Regions from separate parts of the Homo sapiens genome. Here region 2 is linked to region 1. A link means that fine-mapping ties the variant in region 1 to the expression of a gene that starts in the linked region. Tissue or cell type: whole blood. Region 1 holds a variant in brackets; the other region holds the start of a gene. All regions are shown on one strand. Distances are between the middles of the regions.

Region 1 (8,339 bases):
ATGGTAATGCCAGCCTCGCAAAATAGCTGAGAGGAGTAAATGAGACCATTTATGTGAAAGATAACTTATGTGATGGGCTGTCAAATAAGGTTTGCTTGTAAGAAAATTCCTAGGGAGTCTACCAATAATATTCCTAGGGAGTCGACCAATTATTTCACTGGACTGAAATTCCGTATTATATGTGGCTCATGGTTTATCAGTTAAAGCTTAGAATTCTCGCTCCTCCCTGGTGAAAACTCACCACTCTCTCCTTCCTGCCTCCCTAGCACTGTTGATTCCTCTCCACTACGGGGATTTGGCAGAGTCAGTGGCCTTCTCCCCTCCCCAGATCTGAGCTGCTCCATCCGTCCCCATAACCCTCTGCAGGCAGCATAATAGGTAATACCACACAGACACTTGCTGAGTGTTGATTTAAATTAGATTCATCTTTAAAAAGATCTGAGTTATAATGACATTTGACTTGTGTAAATTGAGCTATTAATCCCAAAAGTTAAATTTCACTCCAGTGGATTAAAAACTTCCTCCAGACTGGTCGGTGGCTAGTGCCTTTTGGCCCAGCTACTAAGGAGGCTGAGGCAGGAGGATCGCTTGAGGCCAGGAGGTCAATGCTGTAGTGTGCCATTATGGAGCCTGTAAATAGCCCCTACCTTCCAGCCTGGGCAACACAGCAAGACCCCATATCTAATAAACAAACAAAAACACAAAACTTCCTTTAAATCACATCTACCTTAAATTGGTTTTAAATACAGCCCCTTTGTAACCTCAGGTTCCACATCCACCTATTCAACATGGATCGAAAATATTCAGGGAAAAAGAAACAGTAAAAAATCATAACACAACAATAAATAATAATACAAATAAAAAGCAACGCAGTTTAACAACTGTTTACACAGCATATACATTGTATTAGGTATTATAAGTAATCCAGAGATGATTTAAAGCACACAAGACGTGCATAGGTAATATGTAAATACAATGCTATTTTATGTATGAGACTGGAGCCTCTGGGATTTTGGTATGGGGGTTGGGGGGTCCTGGAACCACGAATACCGAGAGCCAACAACAGTATTTGCTTTCACATTGGGCAACCTCTAAAACACCCGGGGTGGGGGGTGAAAACTGAATTTCTAAGGGAAGAGAGGAGAGGAAAAGGAAGGGAGAGAGATGCTTGGAAAAATGCAGGGAAACATACCTGGGCCCAGAAAGAGATTACATAACTTGGCGTTTTGAGACAATTGGTGATCTCTGGGATGATTAGGAACTGGGAAGGGCTTCGCTTGCGCCACATAGCAATGCCTCAAAAACCCACAAGATGGCAGTATTACTCCAGGAGCGTCTCCGTCCCTCCCACCCAGTAGCTAATGGCTTTCTTTGTTCACAGGAAACCCTCTCTCCCAAATATCATCAGCGCCACTGTATGTTTTCCATTACTTCATGCTCCTGGCCTTACCTTCAGCCAGTTTCCTATCACTAGCCCGAATATAAAAATAAACTACTGTTATTTGTTACATCTTAAAAATAGCACTTTGGTCTCTGCTCTCAATTGCCAAAGCAGCTGAATCAAATGTTTTGTTTTAATGAGAAGCATAAAATAAATAAAAACCCAGGTGAGGGTGATCTCTTCCTTTTTGTGAGTTAACACCCAAAGAGAAGACTTCCCAGGTAAACTAGGTGTCGCCAGGCTGGAGACAGTTAGAGACAGAAGTGCCACTTGAGACAAGATAAGTTCTGGGAGAGAGGGGCTGCCAGCCCTCTTAAAACGGGGCCGGAAAGGAGGCTGAGAACCGGCTCTGGAGACAGTGGAGAACAAAATCTCAAATACCGTATCTTTTAAGTTCTTATTATGAAAAAATCCAACTATACAAAAGTAGACAGAACGGTATGACAAACCCAAACACCATCTTAAGAACTGTGAAACTGTAAACCAGGAAAGAGGCTGCAAGGAAAAAATCTAAGTTCCCAGTTTGTTGAGGAGCCCTAAGATGTCACTTGCCAGAACCCTGGGTCTGCCCACTCCAGCCCTTTGTAGTATAGTTCTTTAACACAGTCTTTCAATGTAATGTCTTTTAATGAAAAGTCCTTTAAAGAAAAGAGTGGGAGAGGCTAGCCCCTGAGCTCTGGTCTTCAAAGGGCAATCTGGAAAAGGGAGCAGGTGTGGCTGCATCAACTCCCAGCCAGACTCAGAAAAAGAGGTCACCCAAGAGGAGAAACAAATAATCCAGACTGTCGGGGAGAGAGGCACACACACCCGTGCCAGTGCCCCAAAAGCAGAGCTCTCAACTTCCTCAGCCACTGTCCCTGACCACAGCCTCAAAAAAGTTCAGTCCCGAAGACTGAGTAACCAATTTCAGCACCAAAAGGATTTGAGTGCTTGCTTAGTCTCCTGTTGGGCAGAGGCTGTTTACCTGGATGGGCTACTAGAGATGTCTGAACCCCCAGAAAATTATATACTGATTGAATGTCCCTTATCCAAAGTGCCTGGAACCAGAAATGCTTGGATTTCAGATATCAGACTTTGGAATATTTGCATTATACAGCATCCCTATTCCAAAAATCAGAAGTCTAAAATGCTCCAAGGAATATTCCCTTTGATTTTTATATAGGTGCTCAAAAAGTTTCAGGTTTTGGAGAATTTCTGATTTTTTATTTTTGGATTAGAGATACTCAACCTCTACATGGACGTTTTCCTACAGCTTTTATATTGCCAAACAACTATGGGGCCACTCCTTGTCCCCTCACCTCTGCCAGAAAAAAAAAAAAAAGTCTAAAAACCCACTGTAATGATACAGATAATGCTTATCCAGTCTTTCTTCTCTTACGATTTTTCTTTTTTTTTTTTCTTTTTGATAAATGGTCTCACTGTTTGGCCCAGGCTGGAGCACAGTGGCACGATCTCTGCTCACTGCAACCTCTGCCTCCTAGGCTCAAGCAATCCTCCCACCTCAGCCTCCTGCGTAGCTGGGACTACAGGTGTGTATCACCACACCTGGCTAATTTTTGTAATTTTGGTAGAGACAGGGTTTTACCATGTTGCCCAGGCTGGTTTTGAACTCCTGAGCTCAAGCGATACACCCACTTCAGCATCCCAAAGTGCCAGGATTACAGGCATGAGCCACTGTGCCCAGACTATTCTTCTAAATCTGATGATCTGTGAGTCCTTTCAGTTTAAAAAACTGCCACAGAAAATTAAAAGAAGTAGGTAAAAATTTTCCTGCTAAATTTATGATTTTAAAATGTCACGATCTTCCTTCTAGTGATTTGATGAAATCCAGCATAAATGAACTGTATTCTATATTTGAGATTTTTGGGTTTTTTTTTTTTTTTTGAGACAGAGTCTCGCTCTGTCACCCAGGCTGGAGGGCATTGGTGCAACCTTGACTCACTGCAACCATCGCCTCCCAGGTGAAAGTGATTCTCCTGCCTCAGCCTCCTGACTAGCTGGGACTGCAGGTGCGAGTTACCATGCCCAGCTGATTTTTGTATTTTTTTTAGTAGAGACGGGGTTTCGCCATGTTGGCCAGGTTGGTCTCGAACTCCTGACCTCAGGTGATCCACCCACCTTCCCCTCCCAAAGTGCTGGGATTACAGGCACGAGCCACCGCACCAGGCCTATATTTGAGATTTATATCTATATGACATGACTATAGAAGTTTTAGTAAAAATAAACTGTTCTTAGGTATTTTATGCTGGAAATATTTTCATGTGTTAATTTCACAGCTCTGAGAAGAAACCAACAAGGAACAACAATTACTTTACGCATTT[T/C]TAATAACAATGGTACCCAATTCATTAACAAATGAATTTAGGCAATGTGCTTTGCTCTACAATCCATCAGATACATTTTCACTGCAGATAGTTCAGAAATCATTTTGGAAATAGACACAAACATGTACATATTCATTTGCTGAAAATGCCACTTACAGCTTTAATATCAAATATAGTTATCATAGTTCACAGAAAAAGTATAAAGTGCAAAAGCTCCACTTCAAAAGGCCTTAAGTCACTCCCAAAGCAATGAGGATTAAATTTTACCACAGCCAGTGGGCATGCCACCCTTATGTAGGACACCTACATAAGGTATAAAACAAGGTATATATCTGAAAACACTATATTGCTCTGATTACATATTGTGGTTATAAAATAGTTTTAAATCTGGTTTAACATACAGAGAAAGATACAATTCAAACAATTAGTCCTATAAAGTAGGGGTTATTTATTTTTTTAAGTTTGCAGGGGAATTATGTCTATAAAATCCATTGAGAATCCCAATCTGGCCCAAGACTTCTCTTTGGCCAGCTGGAATAATAGCACCTAGGCAAAGCCTTGGCTATGAAAGCTTTCAGATTAATTTCAGTGTAAAAGGAGCTAGGAGAGGGGCCCTGACTGGGTGAGCTTCAGCATCCACCTGGTCCCTCAGAGATGGTTCCATGTCTGCCCCAAGGGATAAAGAGCCAGGAAGGCTCAAATCCCAGTCCTGAGGGCTCATGGAAGCATGATGAACTGGCGAGAGAAGTTTTACACACCTGACAGATCCAGTAAGTGGAATAGGTGGTCGTATTTTTACAAAGCCTTGTGTTTGATGACCATCAAGCTTTGTCCCTCAACAGAACATCTTTGATCTATAATTAATGTTTTAGGCACTCTTCACTGGACAGGCATAGAGTTCCCCAAAAATGCAGCCCATCCCCAAATGGATTCAGAGATCTCATCTCCACACACCTTAAATGTGTTCATGGAAGGACTTGATTTATAATGATGTAATCATAAAGGGAAGAAAATATTACTTTTTCTAATAATCAACAACTAAACACTGTAAAACATGAATCGCTGACTGAAATGATCACTCGGAAACATGAATGGTTTTTTATAGCCTAACTCCAGTTTCTGCTGGGTATTGATCTTGGGCAAATTCTGACCAGAACAAAATCTGATTAGCCATGCCAAGTAACCACAACCATGACCTAACTCCTAAGTGTCAGCCCTACTGAAGGGAGGGAGATTCTTGACTGCCCATCAATTAATGAAATAAACTATTCATTTTTTACAATCTGAACATATCAAAATCTGTAAAGTCACATATTTAACAGCTATTTATGATGACTCACCAAGCCAAGTGCAGAGGCACATCAAAAAGTACAATTACATTCATTACTTTTTGGAGCCCATTCATGTTAGGCTTGATTAAAAAGGTAGACTCAGTAGTCAGTCTCAGAATCCAGTGATCAGCATTCAAGCATATAGCTAACTCTAGTGTATTCCAAACCTACACTTCATGAAAAAATATACAACTGGCATTTACATGCCATTCAAGCTACAGGATAAATGTCAACTCTGAAAGACATCATTTATTTACAACTATATTGGGGGAAAAAAGAGGAGACCAAACCAAAATATTAACAAGGATTATACCTGGGCAATAGAAATATGGGTTACTTTTTTTTTTCTTTGACTTCTCTGTAGTTTCCCAATTTTCTTTAAAGAGTTTGTAGTGCTTTTACATATATGAGCGATGCCATAAACCCAACTTAAAATAAGATGGGTATATTTCTACTCTCTTGGTTTACATCCCATGCTGGCAAGCTAGAGTGATTTCTGTTCAAAAGTGAAGTTATGTTTTGTCCTCCTCAAATATACTCCATTCCACATTTCTTTCTCAGCTCATCTCTTTAAAACCAGTTTCTAGAAGCACATTCTGCTTCTCACATTAAAAAAAAAAAAAAAAAAAAAAAAAAAAAAGCCGGGCTTAAAATATATACCAAACCCCCTACCTTGGAGCATTTATACCATAAAGTAGATGAGACCAGAATCCATGCCTGATAAGGTCAATCTAAAATAAGAATGAGCTGATATTTGCCTTTAAAAAATTCTAGACTTGAAACCCAAAGGACTTAACAGCAGTTCTGTTCCATCAACCTCCTAGGTCTCAAAGAGATACATTAGAAATTCTACGAATATTTAATTCAAAGATCATTTTAAAAATATTTTTTAGGCCAGGCGTGACGGCTCATGCCTATTCCCAGCACTTTGGGAGGCCGAGGCGGGCGAATCTCTTGAGCCCAGAAGTTTGAGACCAGCCTGGGCAAAATGGTGAAACCCCATCTCTATGAAAAAATACAAAAATTAGCTGGGAGTGGAGGCACGCACCAGTACTCCCAGCTCCTGGGGAGGCTGAGGTGAGAGGATCACTTGAGCCTGGGAGACAGAGGCTACAGTGAGTCATGACTGCACCACTGCACTCCAGCCTGGGTAATAGAGCAAGACCCTGACTCAAAAACAAAACACTCTCTCTATATATATATAAAACTATAATAAACCAACATATACATTCATTCAACACCTAATTTTTCTACCTTGGAAATTACCAATTTGTTAATTTGCATTTTCACCACCTCATATATTATTAAGTAAATGCCATAAATTTAACCTTAAATAAATTTAATAACATACAATTTACTTCACACACTGGGGTTCCACAAAGATTTCTTACTACAAACAGCGTTCTGCTTCTCAACAACCTATATAATTTGATAACCACAGATGTAGCATAAAGTCATTCATTTTTAAACTCTAAATTCAGTTGCTTATTGGGGTTTTCACCTTGGATCTGGTACAAATTCTAACTAGAGTAAGAGTTCCTGGATGTGTCAAAAATCGTCACCTTCCCAACTCTTACATATGTAGGACAGTGACATGACTCCTGCCCACAGAAGAACACACCTGTCCTGCCCTCTCCCAACAATGGAATGTTACAAAGCAGGACACGCCTGAGTTAAAATGAGTATCCCTGAGGTTGATAATTCCCACCATGCACCTTGAAGATGGTTCTTGAATCTTTCATTCAGCCCGATGAAGAGAAGATTCATTGTAGCCAGTGTCACATTAGGTGAGAAAAATTCAGAAGGCAACAGATTTGCGCTGCTGCACCAGCGACCCAAACCAGCCCGTGAGTGCATAGCTACTGCCAGCACTTGAGAAAGGTGAGCCGTTGGATACTCTGGGAAACCGAGAAAGCACCTTCTACTGCAAGCGTGAAGAACATGATGCCCACAGAAAACACAACAGAAACAAGAAGTGAGACTCTTGAAGGTAATTTCCAGAATAGTACAGCATACTGGAGGCTTCAAATGAGAAAACGTTTCCAAAAACTTCATGTTTGCTCCAAATTTTGAACCAGAACCCCCACCACAATTGTGAGGAGCCCTTTGGTAAACTTACAGAGGTCAAGTCTTAAAGATGGTGGGTCTGTGGGAATGTTCATGCCATAATTCTTCTTCTCTGTAGATTTGAGGCTGCTGAGCTGGGGTGGGAGGGGGAAGAGGAAGTGATGTCAGTATTTAAAAATTGTGCTCAGTATTTAAAAATTGTGCTCATCTTCAAGAAGGGCCTAAAGTGGAGTGTAGGTTTTGGCAGAGAGGGTTTTACTCATTAGCTTCACGTTTATCTGAAGTCTCTCCATCTCTCCACAGAGGTAGTAGTAAAAGGATTCACAGATGCATGTAAAACCTGGGTTAGTTGAGAAATGCAAGTGAAAAACTAGCCTTTTTAGCCACAAGTCCTGTGTGTGTTTCATCTGTTTGGTTTTGTTTAAGGACAATTACCCCAAAGGAAAATCTCTGGCATCTTCCATCACAGAGTCAGAGGGTCTTGTCTCTCAGAGGGTCTGTCTGTCATCAGTAGAGTCCACTCCAAGGGCGCCTGGGAATGGTGGGGTCTGGAGCAGGCCAGCTTTCTCCAGGAAGAGATGCATTGTACAGGGCTGGATCCCCCAAGGGACTGCTCTGCCATGGCCATTAAGGACGCAGCCCAACAAGTCACTGCATCTGGAAGTGATGCTGAGAAAGATGCATCTAGTGTCCCTAAGCCCTCCATTTTCCATCTTTGGGAAAGGAATAGACACTTTTCCCCTTGTACAGTGGAATCCAGGTGGTCCACAGACACATTAGGGAGGAGGAGGGGACCTTTTTAAAAATTACACAAAATCCAGAAATCCTAAAGAAAAGATTAACAGATGTGACAACATGAAAGTTTAAAACCAGTATGGCACAAAAATATTAACATACTGAAAGACAAATGGGAAACTGCAGGGGGGCAGGGAATATTTGTACCATATGACAAAGTTTAAATCCCTACATACAAAGAACACTAAAGAAATTAAGAGCCCCAGCAAATAGATTTTTGAAAAGATAGCCCACACCCCAACTATTCGAACTCCCTTGGCTGTCTTCCTAGCAAAGGAAGCCCACTGCATGAGGGGCGATAAGCAGAGAAGCCAGCCACCATCTTGCCATCACGTGATCTTGACTGATGATTTCTTGTTGGCACACAGGAGGGACACATAGGGG
Region 2 (8,339 bases), 46 kb after region 1:
CTTGGCTGAAGCAAAGGATGATACAATTTGAGGCAACAGAAATTTGCAGAGGCCAAAGCAAAATGTTTTGTATGCCCAAACATTGTCAGTGGAAGTCAAATCAGTGCACTCTCTTTAGTGTGCCATTTCACAATAATTATCAGCATTTAAACTGAATATCCTCCTTGACACAGCAATCCCCATCTAAGATTAGTGCTTGCGAAAGTACATCCAGATGCATGAATGAGGATATTCACTGAATCACTGTTCAAAAACCAAAATGAAAACAATAAAACAGAGAGAAACTATATGAAATGTCCATCAATAAGGATTGATTAGATAAATAAATTATGATCAATCCATTAAAGGGAGTACTGTATAAACATTATAAACAGGAAGAGAGCACTATATGAGCTGATATGGAAATATCTCCAAGACATATTAAGTGAAAAACACAAGGTACATAAGAGTTTACACAGTACCATCTTGGAAAAAAACTTCAAGTATTCGTGATTACGCCATACATGCTGGTTTTTTTTTTTTTTTTTTTGAGACAGAATCTTGCTCTGTTGCCCAGGCTAGAGTGTGCAGTGGCGCGATCTCAGCTTACTGCAACCTTCACCTCCCAGGTTCAAGCTATTCTTCTGCCTCAGCCTCCTGAGTAGCGGGGACTTACAGGCACGCACCACCACAACCAGCTAAATTTTTGTATTTTTAGTAGAGATGAGGTTTCACCATGTTGGCCAGGTTGGTCTCAAACTCCTGACCTCAAATGATCTGCCTGCCTCAGCCTCCCAAAGTGCTGAGATTACAGGCATGAGCCACTGCCCCCAGCCTTATACATGCGTATTTTATATGCACACAGATACATGTGCTTTTTATATGCCTAGAAAATATCTAGAAAGATACAGAAGGTTATTTTTCACTCTACAACTTACATACTCTAAATTTTTTACCATGATCATATTACTTTTACAATAAACAGTAATTTTACAAACTACTTTAAATAAACTTTTTTCCTATCAAAAAGTATGAGTTTTATCCTAGAGATAAAATGATCCCAAGACAGGAGTTTTAAGTTATGGAATGACTAAATAATAAATATCTATTCTATGCCAAATAGATAAATCTAAGTTAGTTACAGTGGCACTTATAGCTTCAAGATAACTCTCTTGGTAGAGTCAAATGGACCAAGTTCTGACTTCAGCTGTGCTATGCTCTTGACCACAGCAAGTTACATAAACTCTCTAGGCCCCAATTTCCATCTTTATCAAATGGATATAATAAATAGCACCCATTGTCTAGAATGAGTATACAGTACCCAGCAGAGCTTCAACACATAGCAATTAAGTAATGGTAGACAGTAGTATCTGAAGGTGTAGTAGTGATGTGCTACCCCTAAGACCCATTAAGAAGGTTCTAGATCCCTCTCCCGGTCTTCTCCTGATTTAACATTGTCAATTCCTCCAACTTTTTCTCAAAACTGGTAATGATTATGAGTTTCCTATAAACTGGGTAATTAGACCTGTTGCCTTATTATGAGGATTTAAGACGATATTTATCACCACATAACAGTCTACTGTCTTTCTCAACACAGGAGTAAGATAAGCATGGGAATGTCCTGTGATAAGCATCAAAATATAAGTAGTACGTAAGAACACAGGGGAAGAAGGCCGGGCATGGTGACTCACGCCTGTAATCCCAGCACTTTGGGAGGATCGCTTGAACCTGGAGGTGGAGGTCGCAGTGAGCCAAGATCGCACCACAGCACTCAAGCCTGGAACAGAGCATGATCATCTCAAAAAAAAATTTTTTTAAATAGCAACAGAGGGGAAGAAACGTTTTTTGCTAAATTCTTTGGACCTACACTCAACAAAGTTAGGCAATGACCTTATTCTCTGACACCTTACGCTCTCTGCTTTGCCAGAGCAAATTTTGTGGTTTATGAGTATTCCAAGGAATAAAGTTTGTCAGATGGGCCAGCTGGGCTCATCAGCCAGACAATGCAGCTGAAGATCAACAGTTAGTTTCTGAAAAAGACTTTAGCACTCACTACATAGAGTAACGGCTCCAATGGGACTAGATTAAAAGTAAAGACAAACTCTCCCTTTCATCCAGCCCTATGACACTTTTCAAGACAGACTCAGAGAAGCCATACACTAGCTTTTTTGGCCAAAATAACCAAGGTTGACCCTCTCTGTAGACCCCAGGCTGCACAGAGAATAATCTTGCTAAGTGTGTGAGAACCTGTCATCAAGCTGTCTTTTCTTCTTGAACTCTGGTGAAATCCTTACTCTTTCACTATATTCTTTATTTACAAAAGGACAGCTTGTGTTACCACTGGTGTTTCTCCTTATTGAAAGTACCCAGAACTACTCCAGCCCATCCTCTGTGTGCAACTATTTACCCCTGACAGCATGCTCTGGGAGGTTATGCAATACATAAGTCATGGCCACTTCCACTGTCTTTCACAGTATCTGTGGTCAGCAGAGGGCCAGGTTTTCTTTGAGACCCTGTTGCCCAGGCTGGAGTGGAGTGGCGCGATCTCAGTTCATTGCAGCCTTCAACTCCCAGGCTCAGGTGATCCTCCCACCTCAGCTTCCCAAGTAGCTGGGACGACAAGTGTGTGCCACATGTCCAGCTAATTTTTGTATTTTTTTGTAGAGATGAGGTTTCGCCATGTTGCCCAGGTTGGTCTCGAACTCCTGGATTCAAGCGATCCACCTGCCTTGGCCTCCCAAAGTGCTAGGAATACAGGTGTGAGCCACAACGCCCAGCCTTAGGTTTTCTTAAGGAACCAACCTAATCATAAAAAAAGGAGCAGGAGTGTTTGTGTGGAAGCCAGCCATGGATTTCAGCACTGAGGGAAGGAAGGGCCCAGACTTCTGGATTGTGGCCCCAGCCATGCCAGAAATGTGAGCATGACAGCTCCCTCCTCAAGAGCCCAGTTTTCTCATCAGATGAATAAAAGGACAGGGACTAGATCATCTGAGATTCCTGCAGGCAGTAAGCACCTGACTCCTGCTGAAGACATTCTCTCTAGCAAATCCAAAAGGAAAAGTCCTAAACAACAACCTCAAATTCACAATGACCCAAACCAGGAGTTCCTGTTTCCCTTGTTTGGGCGGTGAAAAGATAAGCCACAGAAATGACCACGCAAAGTCTCACATTCTGTACCAGGATTCTGAGCCATGGACATACACAAAATAAGAGGCATTTCCTCTCCCAGCTGCAACCCTTCCCTACCACAAGAACTAAAATCACACAGGATTCTGCAATGGGGAAGTTTCTGCTCACCCTTATCTAGGGACCTAGGCAAATCCAAAACCCGCACATTATCACTCCCAAACTTTCCTTTCATCCCTCAGACTTCAGAACTGGAGAAAGCACAGTCCTGGGGGAGTTGAATTAGCGGCTTGCACAAGACAGGACACTAAAGGCAAGAAAAAAAAACAAGTAGTAATTAACTTGATTCTGACCAAAAATAACTCGACCATTATAGGCATGTTCTTGGGGGTGGGGCAAGTCTGCCTGGTGGGAGTGACCCCAGCCGCGGGGACCTGCGGGGGGCGTGCTCTTCCCAGCACTCCGAGAGCAGGTATTCAGGGCAAAAAAGCACAATGCGACCCAAGTGCGTCACGCCACAGAGATCCCAGGGGAGGAAGAGACTTGTCCCGGCAGGTTCACCGCCCCCAGCTGACCCAAACAAGGAGAATGGGCTGACACAGACCCCTGGTTCCTGGACGCGTGGGGGCCAAACAAGACAATAGGACCATCACAAAACAAATGACAGCAGGAGGAAGATGAGCCCAGCTGTCGGGAATGGGGACAGGAGAGGAGGACAGATGGAGAACTGAAAGGAGCGCGCCGAGGAGGGGGTGTGGACTGACTCAGCCCCTGGAGAGAATGCCCCCAGATGCGCGCAGAGACCCACGTCCAGCTTCCAGACGCTGCGGCGCGGGAACAGCCCCCTCCCGCTGGCCCGCCTGCCTTCCCCGCTCCCGCGCCCCGCACCGTGTTGTAGAACTCGGCGATAGCAGGCACGATGGTGTAGTTGTCCTCGCACCAGTCCACCTCCGAGCTACCAGCCTGCAGCTGGTCCCACCAGTGCGGGGCGCCCATGGCCACTCCGGGGCATTGGAGCAGCTGCTCGCGCAGCTGAGAAGAGCCCAGAGCTGCTGCGGAGGCAAAACGCGGCGACAGCCAGCGGCGAAAGCGGCTTTATGAAGCACCGGGTAACCGCCGGATGTGCGCCTCCCAACTGGCCTCCCGCGCTCCGCCCCGCCTCGCCTCGCCTGCGGGAGGTTACTCGTTCGCAGACCCTCCCCGGCCCCTCCCCCTGGAAGCCACGCCCACCGTGGGGCGGGACCCGCGTGGAGGAGGGGTCCAGGGTGGGGCGCCTGGAGGCGGAGACCGGGCTCCAGACTCTTCCAGACTACCCAGCACCCGGCAGGTGGCCAGGGCCTCGATGGTGCTACCCACGCCTGCCCACGCCCATCTCCTGGCTCAGACTCGCAGCCTCCCCCGATTGAAGGAGCGCCAGAACTCTCCCTGGAAAAAAATTTAAAATAAAAAGAAACCCGGGAGGACCTGGACCTCTCTGGACCCAGAGTTTGCAGCGATTTTGCTGCGTCCGGCGTTGGACGCCAGTGCTTACACCAGAGAAGTGCCCTCAGTCCCTCCGAGGCCGGACGCCACTCGCTGCGGTCACTGTGGCAGGAAGACCTTCCCGGCTGCTGGAGCAGGTTGGGCCGCCCAGTCCCCGGGGGAGCACTTCTATTTAGAGTACGTTCCTGCCCTCCCTCCCCTTGGCTCCAGCGTTAAGGCTTAATCTAGCCTTCGATATGGGGACTTAGGCAAAGGGTCAAACGTCAGCCATCCCAAACTGCAGAGGATGTAGTGTGGCAGTTATGACATCTCCAAGATATCGAGGTTCAAGAGGTGATAGATAACATACACATGCCAGGTGCTGTCTGAAGAGTTTCCATGTATCACTCATTTAGTGTGCCCAGCAGAGACCCTGTGAGGGGCTTCTATTAGCAAGTGACAGAGCTGGAAATTCAATTCAGGCAAGATGTCCTCAGATCCAGTCATAACTACCTTCTTTTGCTTCTGTAACTGTTCTGCGGTTTGTAAATGAAAGCCAATCTGGTTCCCAGGATCCCTAGAGGAAAGCCACCCTCTGTGTGTATGTGGTGGCTCCCGTTCTCCTTCCTTGAAAGGTTGTAGGATTCTAGGTCAGGACAGCGGCAGAAGAGGCCCTGGGCAGCAGCCCATTGGTGACTGTCATTAGGACGTCTTGCTCGGACCCGCAGGGTATCCTAAAGGCCAGCAACTCCCCAGGGTCTGCCCTCTCTCTGGGCCTGACTGCCCAGCAGGACCCTGGGTGGTGCTTCAGTGTCCTCTGCACCAAGTGTTTGTCTGCCCACCAGTACCCACACAGCCATGTGCAAGTCCCCAGAGATCTCCATCACTGACAAAAACTGCAAGCCCCGCCGCCTCTCCTAGTCTCTAGAAAATCCAGGTTTGTCCCCCAGGGGCCAAACCACACTCCTCCTTTCATCTTTGTCCCAACCTCTATCCCTTCCTCCTGCTTTACGGGCAATTCCACTGCCCTCCAGAACCCAAGTAGAAGATACACTCTTACCTTCCCCTAGGGTTGATTTACCCAGACCTACAGGATACCCGGAGTGAGCTGGCCACCTAAGAAAGGCGGTTGAGGGCCGGGCGCGGTGGCTCATGCCTGTAATCCCAGCACTTTGGGAGGCCGAGGCAGGCGGATCACGAGGTCAGGAGATGGAGACCATCCTGGCTAACATGGTGAAACCCCGTCTCTACTTAAAAAAAGAATACAAAAAATTACCCGGGCGTCGTGGCGGGCGCCTGTAGTCCCAGCTACGCAGGAGGCTGAGGCAGGAGAATTGCGTGAACCCGGGAAGCGGAGCTTGCAGTGAGCCGAGATCGCGCCACTGCACTCCAGCCTGGGTGACAGAGCGAGATTCCATCTCAAAAACGAAGGGCGGTTGGGGTGGATGTTTCCCACAGCCACAGAAGAAAGATACATCAGTTAATTTCTGTGTCTCAAAATGCTACACCAACTGTTCAGCAATAGAATTTTCCCTGTAGTCAATATTTTACTTCTTCCAACAACAGTTTACTTGGAAATATATCCATATTCATCAAAATATAATGGTATTTTTAAAAAACCATTATTTTATATGCCAGAGATTCTCAAAGTGTGGTTCCTCCCTTTCTTTTCATTTTCATTCTCTTACCAGTGTACATTGGAACTTCCCAGAGGATACATGATGTGTGATGTCATTATCTCTCCGACAGCTAATGGAATATGTGCTTGTGATTCTTTGGTATTAAAAGTCTGTTTAAATTTCTAATGCGGTAACTATTGATGTTACCATATAAACCACAAGTTCTCTGGTGTTCTCAATATTTTTTAAGAGTGTAAAGGGGTCCTCAGACTAAAAAGATTGAAAGTTGCTGTTAAAAAGATGTTCCTGGCCGGATGCAGTGGCTCATGCCTGTAATCCCAGCACTTTGGGAGGCCAAAGCAGGCAGCTCTTCTGAGGTCTGGAGTTCGGGACCAGCCTGGTGAACTTGGCAAAACCCCGTCTCTATTAAAATACAAAAATTAGCAGGGCATGATGGTGGGCACCTCCAGCTATGCGGGAGGCTGAGGCAGAAGAATCGCTTGAACCCAGGGGGCAGAGGTTGCAGTGAGCCAAGATCGCGCCGCTGCACTCCAGCTTGGGCAACAGAGCGAGACTCCATCTCAAAAAAAAAAAAAAAAAAAAGAAATATTTCCAATTAAACTATTTGTAATACTTTTTTATCATTTAGAATTTTTAGTGAACAAGCACAGACTTAGACTTACATTGTTATCATACATCTCTTGTGCATACCTAAGAAGGAAGGTATAAGCAAAAATAAATTCATTAAAGAATTCCTGTAATTTCTTTACATTCAGAATCTCTGTTCTTCTGAGTCATTTTTCAGCTTATAGTCATTGATGTCTGTGTCATTCATATAGAAATGTCCTCTGTGTCCTTAATTACTATGTGCTAATAATGCAGCATTTCTTAAAACTATTCCACTACTGTTTTCTTGCAAACTACTGACACCTGTTTTACAAATTTTGATGCTGGGACTCTCCTGATCTTACCTGAAGGTGTCAGTGGAAGGTTTCCAGACAACAGGCAGCATGTTTCTTTTCCAGATGGTCCTTATATAATCTGTTGAGAGAAACATGGAGATTACAGTTGCCAAGTCATCCCACCAGGAATAACCACCAAGTCTGTACATATGCAGGCAGTGACACCACATCACAACCATGACCTAGCCAACCATAATCATAAAATGCCATTCTTGGTAAAATGCATCAGGATTTCAGAGATTTAACAACGCAAAACAATGTGAGTTTTAGCACCAGTGAAATATTAAATTTGCTGAATGTAATTCATCCTTCTTTCCAAGTCTTGCTAAGGGAATGATGGGAGTTTTTCATCCTCCACAGTAACTCTTATTGTCAGTGACAATTGTAGTTCAAAATCAGTCAGCCACATTGGTTCCTTCTAATTACAACTGCACAGAAACCGTACTTGAGTCACACTGTCTCTAAAATTTTGTTTTCATAGCTCTCCCCATTGTTAACATTGTTAACTTTTTTTTTTTTTTTTGAGACAGGGTAACCCTCTGTTACCCTGGTTGGTGTGCAATGGTGCAATTTCAGCTCACTGCAACCTTGACCCCCCCACCCCAGACTCAAGCGACCCTCCCACCTCAGCCTCATGAGTAGCTAGGACCACAAGGGTGCACCACAATGCCCAGCTAAATGTTGTATGTTTTGTAGAGACAAGGTTTCATCATGTTGCCCAGGCTGGTCTCAAACTCCCAGGTTCAAGTGATCCCTTGAGCCTCCCAAAGTGCTAGGATTATAGGAGTGAGCCATTGCATCCAGCCAACATTTTTAAAATAAATACAACATTGGTAATTTAACAAGAGGGCCTATCAGGAGGTTATAAATTTTAAAATTGATTTATATTAATTGCATGATGCCTTAGAAACTACTGCTAGTGGTTGAATACAAAATTCTGATGTCTACTCTAAACTAAGTTTGTTGAGGGAAGGATGCAGTGACAGCAAGGAACAGAACTACTGAGTTCCAACTATTTGGCTTACGATGCTTTTGGCCTACATGACTCAGTGATACAGATCCACAAGGGAGCAAGTTTGAAGGAACAGCCCTTGCAAGGAATTCAGAATGACAGCACCTTCTATTTTTACATAGTGTATAACAATGTTTATTTGGTATAAGTAAATATCTGATAGTAAATATCCAGTTCAAC

The links. PIP is the estimated chance that this variant, and not a neighbour inherited with it, causes the effect.
Region 2: ACER2 starts here. The variant in region 1 is fine-mapped to the expression of ACER2 in whole blood (TOPMed, PIP above 0.99).

Annotation. Positions count from the first base shown.
Region 1 is chr9:19,450,582-19,458,920 of GRCh38, reverse strand. It overlaps ACER2 (alkaline ceramidase 2), which reads right to left. Exons shown (of 6, transcript NM_001010887.3): 6 at 6,416-8,339. The coding sequence ends at 8,285. Among named protein-coding and RNA genes, the nearest start is that of MAP1LC3BP1, 8.6 kb to the left of the region's middle. RefSeq lists enhancers at 1,042-1,181, 1,196-1,490, 1,085-1,680, 6,936-7,155. The variant T/C (reference allele first, on the strand shown) is at 3,763.
Region 2 is chr9:19,404,847-19,413,185 of GRCh38, reverse strand. It overlaps ACER2 (alkaline ceramidase 2), which reads right to left and starts at 4,177. Exons shown (of 6, transcript NM_001010887.3): 1 at 3,994-4,177. The coding sequence starts at 4,101. RefSeq lists enhancers at 3,932-4,081, 3,494-4,349, 4,350-5,207 and a silencer at 4,182-4,471.